Homo sapiens: one gene and its partner. The protein of the gene in region 2 interacts with the protein of the main gene of each other region in a biochemical or structural test. Each region holds a gene or a part of one and is shown on either strand. Other genes may lie near its edges.

Region 1 (7,000 bases), on a different chromosome or scaffold from region 2:
CCCCACTGCACAGATCCCCTCATATAAACACGAGGTGAGCATGAAAACTATGAAACTAGGAGCTTTATTAATTAAGCCCCAGAATGATGGCTTTGTTTGCCTTCCCAAGAAGAAATGCATCCCCAGTCAGCTGCTGGACTGGAATAAATGGAGGGAAGGGTGGCAAGAAAGGGAGGGATGAAGGACAGGAGATAGAGATAAACAGTGTATTTAACTAGAACAAGGATTTCTTATTAAGTAACCTTGGTCAGCAGTCATATCATACCCCTAGAGGTAGATGATACTTTTAACTTATATCTCAACATTAAGTGAAACAGTGACCTTAGTTTTATCTCTTAATTAAAACAATGAATAGCTTTGATTTTCTCTGTACACTTTGTCCAAAAACACTCGTGCATTTCCTTGATGGGAATGTTCCTGCTGGTCAGTGTCTTTCCCCTGCCTGCCATGTGCTTTGCTGCCGTGGTGGTTGTTTGCTTGTTTGTTTTTGCAGAAACAATCCACGTTGGCGATATTGGTCAAGCTAAGTCCACCTGGGTGAATCCCAACTTGTCAAACTATCCTTTTTTTTCTCCTTAAGAAAATGGATTATATGTCCAGAATCTGGCCACCTCTCATGACATCTCTGGCTACCACCCTGGCCCGAACCACCATCACCTCTCTCTGGTCACCTTCATACCTCCAGCACTCAAGTCTTCCATCTTCCACCCCAGCCCCTCAACACGGCAGCCAGAGGGCGCCTCTGAGCAGGACAGTCTGAATGAGGCTTGCTCAGTTTTACCCGTGGGCATTTGTCACCACAGTCGTTCAGTCTCTTGGGATAGGATTTAAGTGTGTCCAAAAATACCTCCAGAGATTTGTGCTTCCGCGTCGACTGTTAGGAGGGCTGCTGCTTCCTAAACTGTTTGAACATAAAGGCACACAGATGAACGTCAGAAAGGGCTGGGAGAAGCTTCCCTAATCAGGAAAGGAAAGTGGCACGCCACCCGTGTAGACAAAAAATAAAACACCTAATTTTAGTTTTATGAGTGTTGTGTGTTGGTAACTGAGTCACCAAAAGTCTGTTCTCCTTTGATTGCTAACTCCTCCGAAGCGACCTCAGGCCTTCCCTGTTATATGGTGGGGTTTGGTTGGTTCTGGTTTCTGGATGAGAGTCAATAGGCTCGTGAACTTTTAACTTTACTGTGGGGTGTTGCCTTAATGGACTGAGAAAACAGATGTTCCTGCTTAATTCTTGGAATGACTTCTAAACTAATGCTAAAGCAAAATAATATAGCTGTCTTCTTTATTCCGTTTAAAAGGTAGAAAAGTAGATCCTCTTACCATGTAAAAGTCTCTTTTATCCGAACTTATTATGAGGATTTTATTTTTAAAACTAAGTAAAGAGAAACATCTTTGTCCCAAGAGGCAGGGTGGCTTTATTTGACATTAGAAACCCATTTAAAACGGCAGGTAAGAGCATGAACAAAAGCAAAGTTTAGTTCCTCGAATGCCTGCTTTTGTAATGCAGGTGGATCTGGCTCTAGTCTTTAAGGTTATTAATTGGAATGAATGCCCCAAGGCTGCTCTTAGTTTCTCTGTGAAGCATTTTATATGGGAGCTCTGGGGTGACTCTGGGTCCACAGTCATGTTCACAAGCCATCTCTTCCGCAGGAGTGCCCTGCCTTGAAGGCTGTTGGCTGGGTCCCCAGATATTCTCAGGGCAAGATCTGTTGTGTTATAACCACCTGCCATCTGTTGGTGCAAATTTTCTGGATTCTAGATGATGAATCACTTACTTCTCCTGCTGTTCCTTCTGCTGCCAAGACTAATTTACCTATTGGACTTTATGAGGGAATATACTAGAGTAACCTATCATGAAGGTTTGTCCTATGCAAAGTTCCTACTCCATCACTAGAAAAGGTGGGCAAGAGCTTCCTTAGCATCTCCAGAGGGTGGGATGAAGAGCCAGCAGTAACAATGTGGGATCCTCACTTTGGGGTCCTTTGCAGATAAAGCTATAGCCACTGACTTCAGTAAGGTTTGAGTTGAGAGTCCAATGGTGGGTTCATGTTTTCTTGCCAACACTTTCTTTTCAGGACACCCATGCTTGTCTCAAAGTGTGGCACTGGGTAAGCCCTCAATGGCCATCGGTTAAATGAATAACTGAGGTCTATGACCCCAAACTGGGCAAGGCTGACCCACCCAAAGCCACCAAGAGGAGTGTGCTAGGCCGGTTGAGCCCATTTAGGACAGGGGGCCTCAGCTGCAATGCAACATGTGGAGCCATCAGGAACTCTGAATTCTGATTTAGTTTGTTCTTGCCAATCCCCAAAATCAGAGTACTTGGAATGATGTTTAGGAAAAATTCAGGTGACTCTTATCCAGACAAGCTAAGTGCTGTGACAGAAGCTGAGAGCAGGAGCCCCGTCGCTTCTGCAGTGGGCATCAGAAGTGTCCGGGGAGGAGGACTTGGTTCTAACAGTGGAACAAGTGCTTTCCCAATGAGAAAACTGAAGATCAGGCTAACACACCCCTCTGTCCAGTCGTGTGTGGGAGCTGAAGCCTTAGGTTAAAATACGAGATGCACTTCTCCACTGACTCAGTTTCACACAAGTTGGTTTTTATCGTATCATCTTTTGTCCAAAAAAAAAATGTTTATTATGATGGTTTGAGTCTAGCTTTATTCACATATCCTAAAATATCCTAAAATATTTCTATGCTTATGCCTTCCACTTTTTCCCAACCCCAAAATTCTAAGCTCACCAGCAGCAGCAAACCCTAAGCACAGAAGATTCTAACTCCTTCAAGCTTGCTCCATTTCACTCAAGTTTTCTAAAGCTTTCCTGTCTGGAGAAATTACCAAGTCCCAGGTGGGTGGGATTTTATTCTTACCACAGAGTAGGTGTGATTTTATGGGAGGCTCTTCCCCCAGCCTCCTAGATCAGACATAGAGTTATGTGCTCAAGTCCTGGTGGGAAGTGAAATTCCTGTACTTTTAGGTGCTGGGCTCAAATTCTGTCTGCTGTGGTCATTAACGGGAAGAGGTGGCCAGTTGTGTGGGCCTGCCTGAGGCACCACTGGCCCCAGCTGACCTTTCCAATCAAAGGAATGGCTGACCAAACCAGGATGGTATTAAGAAATTCTATAAAACATTCAGAAATAACCTATTCTAGAATGATCTGGGCAGTGTGGGATGCAGTTAGGACCAGACCAGCCTTCTTCTGAGCAAATGGCAGTGGTGCCCATCTCCACTAAGCCTCAACGTGCGAGAAAAAACACTCCCAACCATGCAGCTTATCTGAGCACAGGATGCGCTTGTTGCTGGGGTAGCCACATGTATATGCTTCTGGAACTCCTGATTCCTGCCTTCTCTCTGTATACCCAGGAGGCGGGAGCACACACCAGAACTCAGGACTTTGTGATGACCATGCTTTGGGGGAACAACATGCACAGAATGTCTGAGTGTTCCCTACTCTGAAGGATGATTTGGCCATAAAAGGGATCAGATGAGTCATGGAGTCTGGCTGAACTTGCAATAGAAGAGAACATTGGCAAACTGTCCACATCAGCACTTCGAAGTTGGAAACACAAGACCCCATGGTCTTCAAAGCAGCTCAGGCTAAGACAGGCTGATGTACTTCATGCCGGTCAACCAGATGCTCGGGCACATGGTCTCTCAGCACAGGCACAGCAAAGTAACACGAGACCAAGGCACCCCCCTCCTCCTCCAGAGGTTCTAAGTCAGAACAGGCACCTCTGTCACAGCTCCAAAGGACACACCATGTTTGAAGTGGGCAACGCACTGAAACTGGGGAATAAAACAATTGCTCCACCCCCAAATAAGCCAAGGAGGTTGTCAGTACAAACCTGTTTAAACTTATAGGTTTGTACATTTTAAAAACAAAAGATTCCATTACTGACAAAAGCAAAAGAAATCAGACTGCACTGGCTTTTCTCGGTTTTGGAAGAATTCAGCCCACAGAGTAGCTCCCAGAAGTTGTAAACCTAGTCAGTCTCTATTAAAAAGTAGCTACTGGGTAATCCATGCTCATGGAAGCAACTTACTTTCAAGCTTTAGGACTATTTTAGAAATGCTGATGTTTTGGGGAAGAAAACCCATTCTTCCCTTAGATGCCACCTCACACAAATAGTAAATCCCTAAGAAACTGACCATGCATGGTAAAGGGCTACTTCCAAAGATGGGGTCAACGGCCTGTTTCTTCAAAATACTCGCAAGAAACACAAATGCCAGTTAGATAGTTCCTACACTGTGGTTATTTACCAGACTAGAATCCTCTCTGGGAAGTGTTTAATCCTGCATCAAATACAGACAGGAAAGCATTGGCTTCGAGAGAATCACAGTTCACTGTAAAGGCAAGCCGGTGTTCGAAAAGGACCATTAATTCAGAAGGACCCAAAACTCTGGAAAGGAGAAGTCATGATCACTGCTGTTTCAGGAACAACCTTGGTAACTTGCCAGTTACGCTGGTGGTGGAGAGAATGGAACAGCTGGAAGGGAGACTTCTTAGCGCGCTCGGCATAGGCACAGACTTCACTGCTTCAGAGGACACGCAGTGCAGACGAGAGTCCCAAGCTTCCCAGCTGCACCAGGTCCACATGGCACTTGAAACAGGCTGCCTAAGAGGCCACAACGCCCAAGCATGCTCCTTTGCTCAGAGACCCAGGACCTCAGCTGGGTGGCTGTGGACTCAGGGCCACCCTTCCCCATCTTCCAGTGAGATGCCCAGCACAGACTTGTGGGGGATTCTGCACTCTTGCAGAGATTTGGTGAGGTCAGAAAATCGCCTCCTGGGCACCTCCATTGTTTCAATGCTGCAGTGTCGGTAGGAGGTTTTGTTTTTCTGTTCGGCCACAGCAACAATGGTTTGCAAATCATCTGTTGGCCGGAAATGGCGTACAAACCTTTGGCCTGTTGGTGATCTAACAGCAAGCAGCAACCTTGGTTCTTGGTCCGATGGTTCCTCCAGATTTCCAGCCCTGGAAGAGCCCTGTTTCTTGGTTCGGACGATGAATTTCCTCTCCACGGCACAAGCTCGAGCTCTGGAATCTTCTTCACTTGTCTTCATGGTGCCCGTCTCGTCTTGGTAAAGAGCCCGGATACTGCTCAGTTGCAGTGAGCTGGCCTTTTTGGCAACGGTTTCCACAGCCTCCTCCTCCAGGTTCTTTCTGTTGATGGAAGGAAGGACTGGATACTTATTGAGAGAAGAGGAAGCCCCAGTGGGTACTTGCTGCTGCAGCTCAGGGATCTCATCAGAAGCTCCCTGGTTTGGAGATTTGGGTGCACAGGCTCCTGGTTTTTGGCTGCTTGGCAACTCATAGGGAATGGCTGGAGGCGGAGATGGTATATGATGAGCGCACACCTCCACGCCCTGGGATTTCTGCAGACTCGGTCTTGTCCGTCCCTTGGCGGACTTGGGCCTTATCATGTGCATATTTAGTGAGTTTGGCTGCCAAATGAGGCTGTCAACTGCTGTGCTGACAACAGTGCTACACTCAGGTGGTGCTATATTCACAGGGGCTTCTGTGGCCATTGCTTCTCAAGACCCCTAAGGAAGCAGGAAAAAAACAGGAGTCCGTGGGTTAAACTTCCTGGGACTCCTAGATCCAAGCCATTCCCTCCCTGAGTGCCCAGAATAAGCACAAATTTCTGGCATCTAGTAAGGGGCACCAGCTGCAATTTATTCATTCAGGCATGCATTCATTTATTTTAGGCACTTGCGAGAGATCAGCAAACCGAAGTCCTTGCAATGTAAATTATTATAGTGAGGAAAGACAGGGGTTAAAACCCACAAGTAAATAGATATTTTCAAAGAGTAACAACCGCTATGAAGAAAATAAAAATTATTGCACCAGAGCGTGATTAAGGTGGGGGACTAATTCTTATTCTTTTAGGAGGGGGGAAGTTTCTGGTAAAAACCAGAAAACCTGCTGTGTTTCAGTAAAACTTCATTTTTGGACTCTGAAATTTGAATTTCAGATAATTTTCATGTGTCACAAAATACTCTCTTTTGATTCTTTTTCAATGATTTAAAAATGTGAAAGCTATTCTTAGTTCATGAGCCACACAAAATAGGTGACGGGCCGGATTTGGGCTGTGGGCCATCATTTGTTGGTCCCTGTCCTACAGCAACTCTGGGCGCATGCTAATTCTACAGATGTATGAGCCAGAAAGGTAGAGTGATTTCCCAATGGTCACACAGCCAGCTGGTGGCAGAGCTGGAGATAGGACCCAGGTCTTGTGACACCCGATCCTGTGTCCTCTGTACCCATACAAGCTGCTTCCTGAGCCCAGCACATCACATTCTGTATGTCTGCTAGCTGCTCACATTTCTTTTTTTCTTTTTCTTTTTTTCTTTTTCTTTTTTGAGACAGAGTCTCACTCCATCACTCAGGCTGCAATGCAGTGGCACCATCTCAGCTCATTGCAATCTCCGCCTCCCAGGTTCAAGCAATTCTTGTGCCTCAGCCTCCCGAGCTGTTCAGACTTCTGTCTTCCCAGCTACCCGATAGGCACCCTGGGGCCTCTGTATTTGGATCTCCCACCAAAAGTCTGTGTGAGTGCTGGTTAAATCCACCAGGAGCAATGAACTGAAGCATGGTGGGAGGCGTGAACATTTCTCTGTGCAGACCCGGAATTGCTAAACCATGACACCTCCTCTTTCATTGCCATCTTGGTGGCCACTTCACTAACACTACTACCAGCACCTCCTCCTCCCAATCTCCAGTTCCATCTTTCCCTAAACATTGCAGACATCTTATTGGGCTCCCTGCCTCCCTCTGAATCCTGACCACCACTGTGACTCCTGCCTTCTCTGCTTGAAAGCTGACCTGGCCTCTCCTAGCCTTCTAAAGACCTTCTGGTGACTTTCCAGTGATTCATGGTCCCCAAGAAACAGCATATTTGGGAGCAAAGGACAGAGGACCAGGTGTCACAAAGTGTGGGTTCAATTTCAGCTTCTCTGCCACTGGCTAGCTACCTGATCAAGGGGCAATCACT
Region 2 (7,120 bases):
CTTTGACTTTGGGAGGCCAAGGTGGGCAGATCACTTGAGGTCAGGAGTTCAAGACCAGCCTGGCCAACATGGTGAAACTTTGTCACTGCTAAAAAATAAAAAAAATTAGCCAGGTGTGGTGGCGCGCACCTGTAGTCTCAGCTACTCGGGAGGCTGAGGAAGGAGAATCACTTGAATAGGGGAGGTGGAGGTTGCAGTGAGCTGAGATCCTGCCACTGTACTCCAGCCTGGGCAACACAGTGAGACTCTGTCTCAAAAAAAAAGATTCACTCATGTCCTAACACTCAGACATGTACCCATACATATCTGTTAAGGTCCCCAACCCCATGAAGCACATATATATTCATATAAGCACATGTCAAAGCCATGTGTGTATGCACATGACAACACTTGCCTGGACATTCAAAGCAGCCCCTTTCAACAAGTGGATGATGATGCATACAAGTAAATACACATTTGAGTATTTCATTGCACACAAGTGCATACATGTATGCAGATAAACAAATACAGCTGCCACAGAACTGCATCCATGTACACATGCAAACATCAATATGTGTGTTTTCCACCTAACATATCACCCACAAGCTCACACACACCAGTGTGTCTCTGATGTAGTGACACCCCACTCCTAGACACACATGTGCAGACTCCCACCTGCACTTAAATGGTGCACATACTCTGCACACATGCACACTCATATCCATGTAGAGGCAGGCACCTGCCTGCCCTGGTAAGATGAGCCAACTACTGCTGCAAATACCCAAGCAAGTACAGGCAAATGCAAGCTCTTGTGTATACACCCAGCACCAACACATAGCAGACCACCCTGTATGGTGTATGGGCCTTATCTCTGCCCGCTTCATTTATTTATTCATGTGGTGCCCCGCTGCTTCCCAACATCGTAATCCACTGACTAGGTCTTGGCAGGATCCTGAGGCTGTGAATGGTAAATGCCACCTGGTTCCTTCATGAAGTCACTTATTTTATTTATGCAACAAGCATTAATTGAGCACCTACTGTATACCAGGCACTGTTCCTGGCTCTGGGACCCAGCCCTATTCCTAGCCATCACTCCTGCACGTCCCATGGGGTTAGAATGAAAGAGATGAGGGAGGGCTAAGGGAGCTGAGGAGTGGGGTATCCAGGGCTCTCTTCCTCTGGGAAGCCTACCCTGATTCCACCACCACCATTTACTTGAGTCTCAGAAGATGTGATGAGGGGGAGATGAGCAGGAGGGAGATGGTGCTCTGGGTGGAGGGAACAGCATGAGCAAAAGCATGGTGGTGTGAAGGGTTACTTCCAGATCTTCCTATGTGCCTCACAGCATTTTGCACAGGCCACTTGATGTTTTGTTTTGTTTTGAGACAGAGTCTCACTCAAAGCCTGTTACTCAGGCTGCAGTGCAGTGGCATGATCTCAGCTTGCTGCAGCCTTGACCTCCAGGGCTCAAGTGATCCTCCTGCCTCAGCCTCCCAAGTAGCTGGGAGTATAGGCATGCACCACCACACCCGGCTGACTTTTTTCTTTTTAATTTTTTGCAGAAGCAGGGTTTTGCCCTGCTGCCCAGGCTGGTCTTGAACTCCTGGGCTCAAGTGATTCACCCTCCTCAGCCTCCCAAAGTGCTAGGATTACAGGTGTGAGCCACCACGCCCAACTGATGTTTTAAAGGCTCTATAAACATGTTATGAATAAATGACATGAACAAATCAGTGAATTTAGGTGAGGGTGGGTTTGCTTCACAACTTACAATAATATCAACAACAAACCCCATTTATCCAGCTTTTTTGTTTGTTTGTTTGTTTTTTGAGACACGGTCTCACTCTGTCACCCGGACTGCAGTGTAGTGGTGTGATCTCGGTTCACTGAAACCTCCACCTTCCAAGTTCAAGCGATTTTCCTGCCTCAGCCTCCCGAGTAGCTGGGATTACAGGCACGTGCTACCACACCTAGCTAGTTTTTGTATTTTTAGTAGAGATGGGGTTTCTCATCTCTACTAAAAATACAAATACATCTCTAGTGGCCAGGCTGGTCTTGAACTCCTGACTTCAAGTGATCCTCTTGCCTCGGCCTCCCAATGTACTGAGATTACAGGCTCGAGCCACCGTGCCCAGCCCAGCATTTCATAGGCATGATGTTAAGGATTTTTATGCCCATGCCCTCTTTAACTCTTACAGTAGCCCCATTGTACAGATGAGGAAAACTGAGGCTCAGGGAGCTTTAACAACTTGCCTGGTGGAACAGAGCCAGAGGTGGAGCTGACTGACTCTAGAGCCTACTGGGGTTGGCAGAAGTTTGAGCCTTCTCTCAGACCCCAGGACCTCGGAGACAGCCAAGTCCCTTCTGTGGAGTGATGTTCTGCCCTGGGATTGCCTTCTTCTTTCTATTTATTTATTTATTGGAGACAGAGTCTGGCTCTGTTGCCCAAGCTGGAGTGCAGTGGCACAATTTCAGTTCACTGTAACCTCCTCCTCCCGGGTTCAAGCAATTCTCCTGCCTCAGCCTCCTGAGTAGCTGAGATTACAGATGCACACCATCATGCCCAGCTAATTTTTTGTATTTTTAGTGGAGATGGGGTTTCACCATGCTAGCCAGGCTGGCCTCGAACTCCTGACCACCAAGTGATCTACCTGCTTTGGCCTCCCAAAGTGCTGGGATTACAGGCATGAGCCACTGTGCCCAGCCAGGATTGCTTTCTTCTCTCATGCATCTAGTAAACAGACATGTCACAATCTCTCCATTCATCGGGGCTATTCCCCTGCTCCTTGCCTAAGAAGCCTTCACACATCCCTCCGTTCCTGGCTACTCAGTCCCTGATACCCTCCAGCTAGGAGGAGCTGCATCTAGGTCTTAGCTCCTACCGTTCTCATGGGATGCCCTCCAGAGTTGCATCTTCAGGGCTGCAGCCTAACCCTTTCCCTAACCTGGCCTCACTTTTCTTCCACATACAATGGACCTCTTCTGCAAGGTGCCAATAAGGGCATCCTGGGTCCAGCAGGCCTGAGTGTGAATTGCTAAGTCCACCACTTCCTGGCAAGTCTCACATCCTCTGCATTCCTTGGTGTGCTCATCTGTGGAATGGGCACAGGAGTAGCATCCACCATCTACGTTTGCCAGAACTCTCTAATGAGGCTTGCAGAGCCCCTGGCATGACTCCTGGCCTACGGGAAGGCCCAATAATCGTGAGCAAAAGACATGAAAAATCAATGATGGGCCGGCCCCGGTGGCTCACGCCTGTAATCCCAGCACTTTGGGAGGCCTAGGCGGGCAGATCTCCTGAGCTCAGGAGTTCAAGACCACCCTGGGCAACATGGTGAAACCCTGTCTTTACTAAAATACAAAAAAATTAGCTGGGTATGGTGGCGCGCGCCTGTAGTCCCAGCTACTCAGGGGGCTGAGGCACGAGAATCGCTTAAGCCCCGAAGGCGGAGGTTGCAGTGAGCCGAGGTCGCGCCACTGCACTCCAGCTTGGGCTACAGAGTGAGACTCCGTCAAAAAAAAAAAAAAAAAAAAATCAATGATGATGTTTTTATTAATGGAGACTAAAAGCTTTCTGGAAGGCGGTTCTGAGTGCAGGACATTTCTGAGAGTCCACTGCATTCTGGGGCCCGAGGAGCGCTCCAAGAGGGGTCCCCCAGGGCCACTCCAGGAGGGAGCCTAGTTCGTTGAGGGTACACGGGTGGGACCGAGCATTCAGCACCGTGGACAGCGCCTGCCCGCGCCTCTGGGGGACAGCTCTTAGCTCAGCCTCCCAGGATTAATGGAGGAGGTGACGTCATTCCTTCCGTGAATTACTATTTAATGAGCACCTACTATAGGCTAGGCCTACTTCTAAGTGGTTCATGGTAAACAACACACACACAAATCCCTTATTCCCGAAGCTCTCTGGAACTCCAGGTTCTTGGTGTTTTTTACACTGAAGGCTCAGTCTGGCTCTGGTCTATTTGTGTCAACGGAGGATAAGGGTCCTCATTTAGTGTCTCCCAGATGCGAAACCAGCACAGCTGAGGTCTTTTATCCTAAAGCCCATCCATCTCCCGCTGAAATGCCCTCCACCAACATCACACACAAAACGATCAAATCTCCTATAATCTATTTCTGGATTCTCTATGCTTCCTCCCTTCCCCCAAGCTAATCCTGGGGCGGGTGGGCTTTCAGAAGCCCTAGACGGCTGGATCTCCACCTCCTGTCTCCCCACCCCATCCCACGTGGCAGGTCAGGGAGCCAGTGCCCCAAGACTGCAGTCCCCCCTAATTAGAATCCAGGGTCAGTCAGCCATGTGGTTCACGCCTGTAATTCCAACACTTTGGGAGGCCGAGGGGATGGCTTGAGCCTTGAAGCCAGCCATAGCAACATAGCAAGACCCCATCTCTACAAAAAAAAAAAAAAAAAAAAAGGAATAGCCAAGCATGGTGATGCGCACCTGCAGTCTCAGCTACTCGAGAGGCTGAGTGGGGAGGATCGCTTGAACCTGGGAGATCGAGGCTGCAGTGAGCCATGATCACACCACTGCCCTCCAGCCTGGAGCCTGGGCAACAGAGAGAGACCCTGTCAAAAAAAAAAAAAAAAAAAAAAAGAAAAGAAAAGAAAAAAAAAGAAGAAGAAGAAGAGAAAAGAAAGAAAAAGAAAAGAATCCAGGGTATTCAAATCCTAGAATCCAGGCCAGGGACACCTTTAGAACACAACCAAATAATAAAAACAGTAAAGATATCAGTAATAATAATAATAGTATAAATGACACTATAATCATTCTGCAGAAGGGGTGAGGGAGGAAGAGGAGGGAAGAAGAGGAGGAGAAAGGAGAGGGAAGGGAGATCAGCCACTCCGTCTCCCCATTTTCCAGATGCAGAAACGGAGGCGCGAAGCCAGGCTGCAGGGGTGTCCCGCAGCCTGAACTCCTGCCTCAGCCTCCCCGGGTACGGCCACTACATTCATCAGTCAGCGCTTCTGGGGGCCCCAAAGACCTTTGAGGCCGCATGACGCGGTGTCTTCACCCGCTCGTCGCTGGGGACAGCAGTGGGCACCCCCCTCATCCCCGCCCCCCTGTCCGCCGGCGCGCCTCCCACGCCCTCCGCGCGCCCACGCTATAAATAGCCTCATGCGTGTGACCCGAAGCCCGCTGGGGAAGGGTGGCGCTTCCGCCCCGCTGACCCTGATACAGCAACCCGGCGCAGGCGGGGAGGTGGCGGGATGTGACGACGAAGACGGTGACTCAGGGACCATTTACTGACCGGGGAAGACAGGGAGAGAGACTGGGTTCCTTCTCTGAGCCCCCTTCCTCCTCCAAGCCTCTCCCCCGATACCACCCTCCCCTCTGCGCCCATCCCCCTTCCCGAATCCCCTCCCTCACCGCGAACACCCTTCCCTCCTGAGAACCCCCTCGCCACTCTCGGCCCCCTTTCCTGTCCCCTTTTCCCTCTGAGACCCCTCTCCCACTGGGAGCCCCAGTGATGAAAAATCATGGATGTCCTCAACCTGGACCTCGGCAGGGAGCTAAGTGCAGGAGCCTGGCTTCAGCTATCAGAGGGTACAGCCCTCCAGCCGGTCCCCCACTGCCTGAGGACCCCAACGGAGACCATTCCCCTCTAGCCAAGAGAGGCTGCAGGAAGGAGCTGAGGCTTAGGGAAGAGGAGCCGGACTGACCAAGGGAGGGGCACAAGAAGGGCAGAGACAGTGAGAGAGAGAAGGAGAGAACAGAGACCAAAAGAAGACGACCAGAGTGGAGAGAAATAGAACGGGGAGGAGGGAGATGAGAGACAGGGATTGGGAAAGAGAGAGAGAGAACAGATCAAGGAGCTACTGGGCTCCCCGCTGAGCCTAAATCCATGGTTTATAAAACAGGGCACAGTTGGAGGAGCTTCAAGTGAGCCCAGCCCAGTCTAGACCCCAGTGAGCCCCTTGTATCACCCCCCAGAGCCTGTCACTTTCCCACCCCCATATGCATCCCTACTTTTCTCCCCCAACTGCCTCTCCTCTCCCCAGTGTCTCCTCCACCTGCCTGCCCTCCCTAGTGGAAATCTTTCCCCCTCTCTCTTTTATTATTATTATTATTATTATATATTTTTTGAGACAGAGTCTTGCTCTGTCGCCCAGGCTGGAGTGCAATGGCGTGATCTTGGCTCACTGCAACCTCCGCCTCCTGGGTTCAAGCGATTCTCCTGCCTCAGCCTCCCGAGTAGCTGGGACTACAGGCGTGCACCATCATGCCCGGCTAATTTTTGTATTTTTAATAGAGATGGGGTTTTACCATGTTGCCCAGGCTGGTCTCGAACTCCTGACCTCATGTGATCCACCTGCCTCGGCCTCAAAGTGCTGGGATTACAGATGTGGGCTACCACGCCCAGCCTCTCTCCCTTTTAAATTATTATTTTTAGACATGGGATCTTACTACATTGCCCAGGCTGGTCTTGAACTCCTGGGCTCAAGGGATCCTCCTGCCTTAGCCTTCCTAGTAGCTGGGATTACAGGCATGTGCCTCTATGCCTGGTACTCTCGCTGTCTCCTTGTGTCTCTCTATTTCTCTCCATCTGTCCAGACTCTCCTCTCTTGCTTTCATGCCCATCATTTCTTCCTCTCTCCTCTCCCTTCCTCTCCCTGTATGAGTCCCTCCAGCTGTGGGTGCCTTTCTCAGCCTCTGTCAGCATCCCCTCCACCCCCGATCCCGTCACATTCTACCTCTTGCCCCTTCCCCTGCCCACCCCCTTCACAGAGAGTCCCCACGCCTGCAGGCTGGACCTCCTCCAGGAGCCAGGCCCAAAGCTCCTGCTGGGCACATTCCTGAGTGTTCCTGAGCCTCTTTCAGTCCCAGGGGTGAGGTGCTGGGTGGGTGCGCTCCCTGGGGGCTGGGTGGGGCTGAGGATGTGAGCGAACAAACCAGACCTAGAAAAAAAAAAGACAGAGATGGAAGCAGAGATGAAGGCCCAGAGAGAGGGGTTCACTTGCCCAGGGTCACACAGCTCAGGAATCTGAACCTGGCTCAAACCAGCATTCACTTCTCTCAAGGCCCACCCAAGGGCTGCAGTGCAGTGGCACAATCTCAGCTCACTGCAACCTCTGCCTTCCAGGTTAAAGGGATTCTCCTGCCTCAGCCTCCCGAGTAGCTGGGATTAGAGGTGCGTGCCAC

The links. Proteins that work in one complex are often made in the same cells at the same time.
Region 1: the proteins of UNC13A (region 2) and UBXN10 form a complex in vitro, tested with the Homo sapiens proteins (one study listed by BioGRID).

Annotation. Positions count from the first base shown.
Region 1 is NC_000001.11:20,189,096-20,196,095, reverse strand, and holds the end of UBXN10 (UBX domain-containing protein 10), read right to left. Parts: intron 5,550-7,000; 5' UTR 5,535-5,549; coding exon 4,692-5,534; 3' UTR 46-4,691; downstream 1-45. UniProt on the Homo sapiens protein: VCP/p97-binding protein required for ciliogenesis. Acts as a tethering factor that facilitates recruitment of VCP/p97 to the intraflagellar transport complex B (IFT-B) in cilia.
Region 2 is NC_000019.10:17,678,343-17,685,462, reverse strand, and holds part of UNC13A (protein unc-13 homolog A), read left to right. Parts: intron 1-7,120. UniProt on the Homo sapiens protein: Plays a role in vesicle maturation during exocytosis as a target of the diacylglycerol second messenger pathway.